Homo sapiens: one gene and its partner. The protein of the gene in region 1 purifies or fractionates together with the protein of each later gene. This does not show direct contact. Each region holds a gene or a part of one and is shown on either strand. Other genes may lie near its edges.

The links. Proteins that work in one complex are often made in the same cells at the same time.
Region 2: the proteins of NUDT2 (region 1) and DPH5 fractionate together in Homo sapiens (co-fractionation; one large-scale study listed by BioGRID). This does not show direct contact.

What each region holds. Positions count from the first base shown.
Region 1 is NC_000009.12:34,332,569-34,336,068, forward strand, and holds part of NUDT2 (bis(5'-nucleosyl)-tetraphosphatase [asymmetrical]), read left to right. Parts: exon of another isoform or gene 1-1,103; intron 1,104-3,500. UniProt on the Homo sapiens protein: Catalyzes the asymmetric hydrolysis of diadenosine 5',5'''-P1,P4-tetraphosphate (Ap4A) to yield AMP and ATP. Exhibits decapping activity towards FAD-capped RNAs and dpCoA-capped RNAs in vitro.
Region 2 is NC_000001.11:100,991,954-100,994,784, forward strand, and holds part of DPH5 (diphthine methyl ester synthase), read right to left. Parts: intron 788-2,831; coding exon 684-787; intron 1-683. UniProt on the Homo sapiens protein: S-adenosyl-L-methionine-dependent methyltransferase that catalyzes four methylations of the modified target histidine residue in translation elongation factor 2 (EF-2), to form an intermediate called diphthine methyl ester.

The DNA.
Region 1 (3,500 bases):
ATAGGCTGCTTAACAAATCCCCTTCACTAAGAATGATTTTTGTCCCAACCTTGTCTGACTTTGGCCTTATCCTAGAAGCCAATATTTATGCCATTACAGGTAAAATCTCCTGTTTCCTCCCTCAGCCAATAGCAAAAATAACAAAATGACTCAGCAGCTTCGTCTCTGCAAGAATGGAGTGGCAGATGTCCAGGGAAAGGTGCATTTGAGGGAATATTTTCTTTGTCTCAATTTATTCATGGTAGTTGGGGCTTTTCTTTTGCATTTCTTTCTTTTTTCTTCTCTTCCATTTGTTATTGTTCTTACAAGAAAGAGCTTTACTCATGGGTGGGTGCCTCATTTCTGTCCACTCCAAAAGGGAAGAAAGAAACTGGCAAATTGGAAAAAAGATGATGATGATGTGGGAGGTGAGGGAGTAGTCACATAGAATTGCAGTCACATAGAATTGCTTGTGGGCAGGCAAACAGTTGGCTTTCCTCCTCATCTGGAGGAGGGTCTGGGCAAATTTTCTGGACACTAGTGCCCTAAGTTAAGTGGAACATGTGGTTTTAGGTTCCTACTTCCCAGAAAAGAGCAGAGGAGGCATAGAAACCCTTTTGAGATGGGTGCTATTAGGAGCCTGAGGCTACATTTTACCCCTCCTTCAGAGTCTTCTTCGGATACCAGGATTTAACATCTACGGCCCTCTCCCCCCAACTAAAACCTTTTTGGTGGAAATGATCCCAGCTAGACATCTTAACCTCCAAAGGAATATAGATTAAAGACTGGGAATTTGGGGCCAGGCACAGTAGATTGCACCTGTAATCCCAGCACTTTGGGAGGCCAAAGTGGGAAGGTCACTTAAGGCCAGGAGTTCAAGACTAGCTTGGTCAGCATAGCAAGACCCCATCTCTACAAAAAAAGTGTTTTTTAAATTTAGCCAGATGTGATGGCTCCTGCTTGTAGTCCTAGCTACCCAGGAGGCTAAGACAGGAAAATTCCTTGAGCCCAGAAGGGATGCAGTGAGCTCTTGAGGCTGCAGTGAGCTGTGATCATACCATTGCCCTCCAGTCTGGATGACACAGAGAGACATTGTCAAAAAAAAAAAAAAAAAAAAAAAAAAAAGGACTGGGAATTTTGAAACTGGAAATGATTTTATAAATCTTGTCTGTCCTCTCTCAGGGCCATTTGTGTCCTAAGCCCTACTCTTTCATGGTGAACAGAGCTATGAAAGGGACAAAAATTATAGACTTTGGAGTTAGACTTACTTGGATTGAAATCCCATCCTTTACAGGCCAGCTATGCCCTTATGCAAGTATTTTAACCTTTTGAAATAATATCAGTGTCCTTGTAAATTAGATATAATAATGCTTCTCTTGAAAGGTTGTTTTGAGCTTTAGAAACAATAGTTGTCAAAAGTCTTGCACAGTATAGCTGGCACAGTATATATAGATGCTTAATTGACAACGCGGCATGAAACACTGTTTCTGCTAAAGGGATATTAGAATATGGAGAACAGGTCAGAGGGAAAATTTGGAGAGCTCTTCCTGTACCTAAAGTTACATTTCTGAGGGCTTTTTACAGTTACTCTGATTAATTTGATGAAAATATTGAAACAAACAGCATAGCCATGTATTTGTAAATTCTTTTTTTGGTACCTAGGTCCCGAACCTCCTAGGCTCTGAGGGAATTGTATTTATGGAGAAAGCCGAGAATATTTTTCCTTAGCTTCTAGAACCTTCTAATGACATTGAAGGTTTTTTTGTTCAGGTTTTTTCTAACCACCTCAGGCACTCTGCCACTTTTTTGAAGTGTGAATTGCCTGCTGTCAGCCTGGAGTTCTCACCTCCGCAATCCTGGCTGCAGGCATATTTGCATATTGGATGCTGTGTTCCTTAACCCCCTGAGGTTTGAATCCACTTGGAGTCTGTGTGTGAAAGCTGGCTACTTTCAAACCCATGAACAGTTTCAGCTTTGTGGTCTCCAGAAAAACAGAAAACCCCCAACAATAGTTCCATTCACTTTTATGTAAATGGCACTCTTCAGGAAAACACTGGGCTATTTCCCAGGGCCCCAGAACATACTCAAACATTTGTTTGAGTGGGAGGTGGGGAGAGAGTTCTTTTGAGTCAATGAACATCTGTTCAGAACTGCTGTGCTGGGTCCCAAGAAAACAGAGCTTATAATCTGTCTCTTCCCTGCCAGAGGTACCAGCAGAGATTTACTATACTAGGTATATGTGCTTGTGGTGGCATTGTACTGTGTCAGTTTAGCTAAGCTGGATTCCCAGTATCCTTCCTATCTGCTTCCAGGTGAGGGTTGTCCACAAGAAAATTTCGTGAGAGATTTGGAAAGCTGAATTGAAGTAGCAGCCAGTACACTGTGAAGGACAGAGCAGGGTCTGTACGCTGTGAAGGACAGAGCAGGGTACCAGGCATAGTGGCAGTACCTGTACTTTCTCTCTGATCTGGCTCACCTTGTTGGTGAAGGTCATCACACAGCCCCCAGCACCCCTAGCTCCTACTGAATTTCCTCCTTCAGCTCCTCTGAGTCCTGGGCCATGTGTGCAGTCAGCTCTGTAGCAGAGGGCTCCGGCTTCTCCAGATCACCTGAGTCACTGAGCTTGGGACCAGTGAAAGGAAGTTGTGGGTTTCAGTTTGTCCTCATGAGTTCCAGTTGTCCTTGTAGATCCCAGTTTGTTCTCAGAGGTTCCAGTTTGTCTTTGTTCTCTTCCACCTCACATCCAGTTTTCTTCCCAACTGCTGGCCTCACAGACTTCGGGCCCAACACCAGGTGCAGAGGCAGCAGAGTTGCATGGATTTATCCACCAACTTCCAAAGATACACAGTGTCTACTCCTTATAATAAATCTTTAGTTTTCTGTCACTCATAGCGTTTGCTTCCCTGATTGAACTTTAAATTTGTTCAAGCCGTGTTAAGGATGCAGAGCATGGAAGTGATTAGAAGCCAGAAAGCTTCACAGAGGAGGTGACATCTGAGCTGCTTCTGACGAGTAGGAGGTTGTGTGTATAGAGTGGGTAGGAGGAATTCTAGAGAATAGCTGGCTCAAGCCAAGCAATTGAAAGAGCAGTGAGGAGTTCTGTATTTCTAGAAGAACTGTTCTTTCCATGGGTCCAGAATATAGATGGAGAATGAGCATCTGATCCTAGCTCTTCTGGCGCCATTGAGATTAACTGTTAGCTGATGTGGTTCTTAGATGTGGTCATCCCTAATACACTGGCATCCACTGAAATACATTCTTGCTAGGGTACACCCTTGTCACTACCCTAAGATTCCTCCCCCACCCCACCGCTGCTTTCCTCTCCCCAGTGGTTCCATGTGGCTAACCCAGGCTTGTCTTTCTTGGCTCCCCATGCAGGCATCTTTGCTTGTCCATGTTGTGTTGATGGTGGCAGTGGTATGGAGTTCCTGTCTTAGGCAGGGCACTGTGCCCTCTAGTCTTGGATCCCTAAGCTTATTTAGGGGTTCTAACATTGATTCCATGGGACCTTCTAGTCTTGG
Region 2 (2,831 bases), on another chromosome or scaffold:
CAAAGAAATTAGCTGGGCATGGTGGCATGCACTTGTAGTTCAGCTAAGGTGGGAGGATCACTTGAGCCCAGGAGGTGGAGGCTGCAATGAGCTGAGATAGTGCCTCTGCACTCCAGCCTGCGTGACAAAGTGAGACCCTCTCTCAAAAAAAAAAAAAAGAACCTCCCATAAAGATTTATTGACAATAAACATTTCTATTATATACCACACACTGTGTCTACATATTAGGAATATAAGAACAAATTTTCTCTTATATTTACCCTGAAGAAAACTATTCCTAGTCTCAATATTAAGAATGAAAGGAGGGAGAATAAAAGAACGATAAGTATATTTTTGCAGGATAGATCTCACCATTGATTAGGGATAACATAATAGATATATTTTACAAAAATATTTATACAGTAATATATTTATATCAAATGTGACTTATGTTTAATTTGTGAAAAATCCTCACTTTCTGGAATGGTGTTAATTATACTATAAAAGAATGCCAATTTTTTTTTCTTTCACTACAACTTGAAGCCTATGGGATTTAAGTTAAAGTTGGACAAAAATGACAAGAAATAGTACAATACAAAAATACTGACTCTTGCTTCCATAGTGGTATGAGATATTAAGTCATATACACATCTAAATGTAGTAACAGAGGAATAATATGAGAGCCCTTCTAGTGTCTTGAGTACCTGGTTCTTCTCCTCGTATTCTTTGATTTTGAACAATCTCCAGAAGCTGCTGGGCTGCTTGGTTTACACTCATATACCGTGGAGGTTCATAGATCTTCCTTCCCCTATAGGCAGAAAACTAGATGCCACTGTTCTTAGCCATGAAACTACATAATATGTTATTAATGCAATTAGCTCTCCCAGGTATACTCAAGTACCACAGTCTACATTCTGTTTGATGTTTTTTTACATGTACTCACTTTAAGCATACACAAAAGCATGATGATTGTTCATTTCTTAAGCTTTTTCATTGTTCTAATTTAACTTTCCTCTGATCTCACTGAAATGATGGCAGGAACACATAAAGATAGATGTCTAAATGAAAGTTATCTTTATTCAAAGTGATACCTTTGGTAAAAACAATTCAAAGTAAGTGGCAATTTGGTCTATACTCTAGCTTAATCAGGTTATTTAGTGTCCTTTTTATGACCATTTTTAAACCACATATTCTTTTCACTGTTTCCTCTAAGAAAAGTAAACTAAAGCATCTTGGATGCTTAAAAATCTCAGGTGATGGCATACGTTTATTTCTGTATGCCTCAAAAGCCTATCAGGCTTGCCGAACTATCATATTAACAAAAATATAGCCATTGCAGGCCAGGCGTGGTGGCTCATGCCTGTAATCCCAGCACTTTGGGAGGCAGAGGCGGGTGGATCACAAAGTCAGGAGTTTGAGACCAGCCTGACCAACATGGTGAAACTCCGTCTCTACTAAAAATAAAAAAAATTAGCGTGGCTTGGTGGCGCACGCCTGTAATCCCAGCTACTCAGAAGACTGAGACAGGAGAATCAATTGAACCCGGGAGACGGAGGTTGCAGCGAGCTGAGATGACACCACTGCACTCCAGCCTGGGCGACAGAGCAAGACTCTGTCGAAAATATAAATATATATATATATATATATATATATATATATATATATAGCTATTGTGGCTTACAACACAGTTCAAATAGATTATTTTACTGACTCTCAAAAAAATTCTGTCAGTGCTATCCAATAGAAATATAAATGAAGCCATATATAGAATCAAGTTTTCTAGTAGCCATATTAACAAAAAAGTTTGTAAAAAGGCAATTTTTTTTTTTAAGACAGTCTCACTCTGTTGCCCAGGCTGCAGTACAGTGGCGTGATATTGGTTCACTGCAACCTCTGCCTCCTGGGTTCAAGCAATTCTCTGCCTCAGCCTCCCGAGTAGCTGGGATTACAGGTGCCTGCCACCATGCCTGGCTAATTTTTTTTGTATTTTTAGTACAGACGGGGTTTCACCATCTTGGCCAGGCTGGTCTCGAACTGCTGACCTCGTGATCCACCTGCCTCGGCCTCCCAAAGTACTGGGATTACAGGCATGAGCCACCACGCCCAGCCAAAAAAGGCAAAAATTTTAATATTTTAATTAATCCAAAATGTTGTAATTTAACACCTACTCATATAAAAATTATTAAAGAGATTGTTTTTATATTAAGTCTTTGAAATCTGATATGTTCTTACAGCACACCTTAATTTGGATATTAAATTTTCATTGGAAATAGTTGATCTGTATTTAACTTTCATAAAATTTATGGTTTTAACAGTTGATTTATATACTAAAGCTGTTCCAAACATACTTAAAAGTTTTCCAATAACAGAGTATCATTTTTTAATTAATTAAAATTAAATGAAAAATTCAGTTCCTCAGTCACATTAGCCACATTTCAAATGCTCCTTAGTCACAAGTGGGTAGGGGGTACTGTATTAGACACTGCCTCTCTAAGTAAAAAAGGATTAGTACTATCATTATACATCTGAAGAAAATAAGGCTCAGAGATGGAAGTAACTTGCCCAAGAGCACTCAACTAGAGGCAGACTCAGGACTCAAACCCATGCCTTTTTTTTTTTTTTCTCACTCTGTTACCCAGGCTGGAGTGCAGTGGCGTGATCTCAGCTCACTGCAACCTCTGCCTCCCAGATTCAAGCGATTCTCGTGCCTCAACCTCCCAAGTAGCTGAGATTAAAGGCACGTGCCACCACACCCAGCTAATTTTTCCATTTTTAGTAGAGACGTGGTTTCACCATGTTGGCCAGGCTGGTTTTGAACTCCTGGCCTCAAACAATCCACCTGCCTCAGCCTC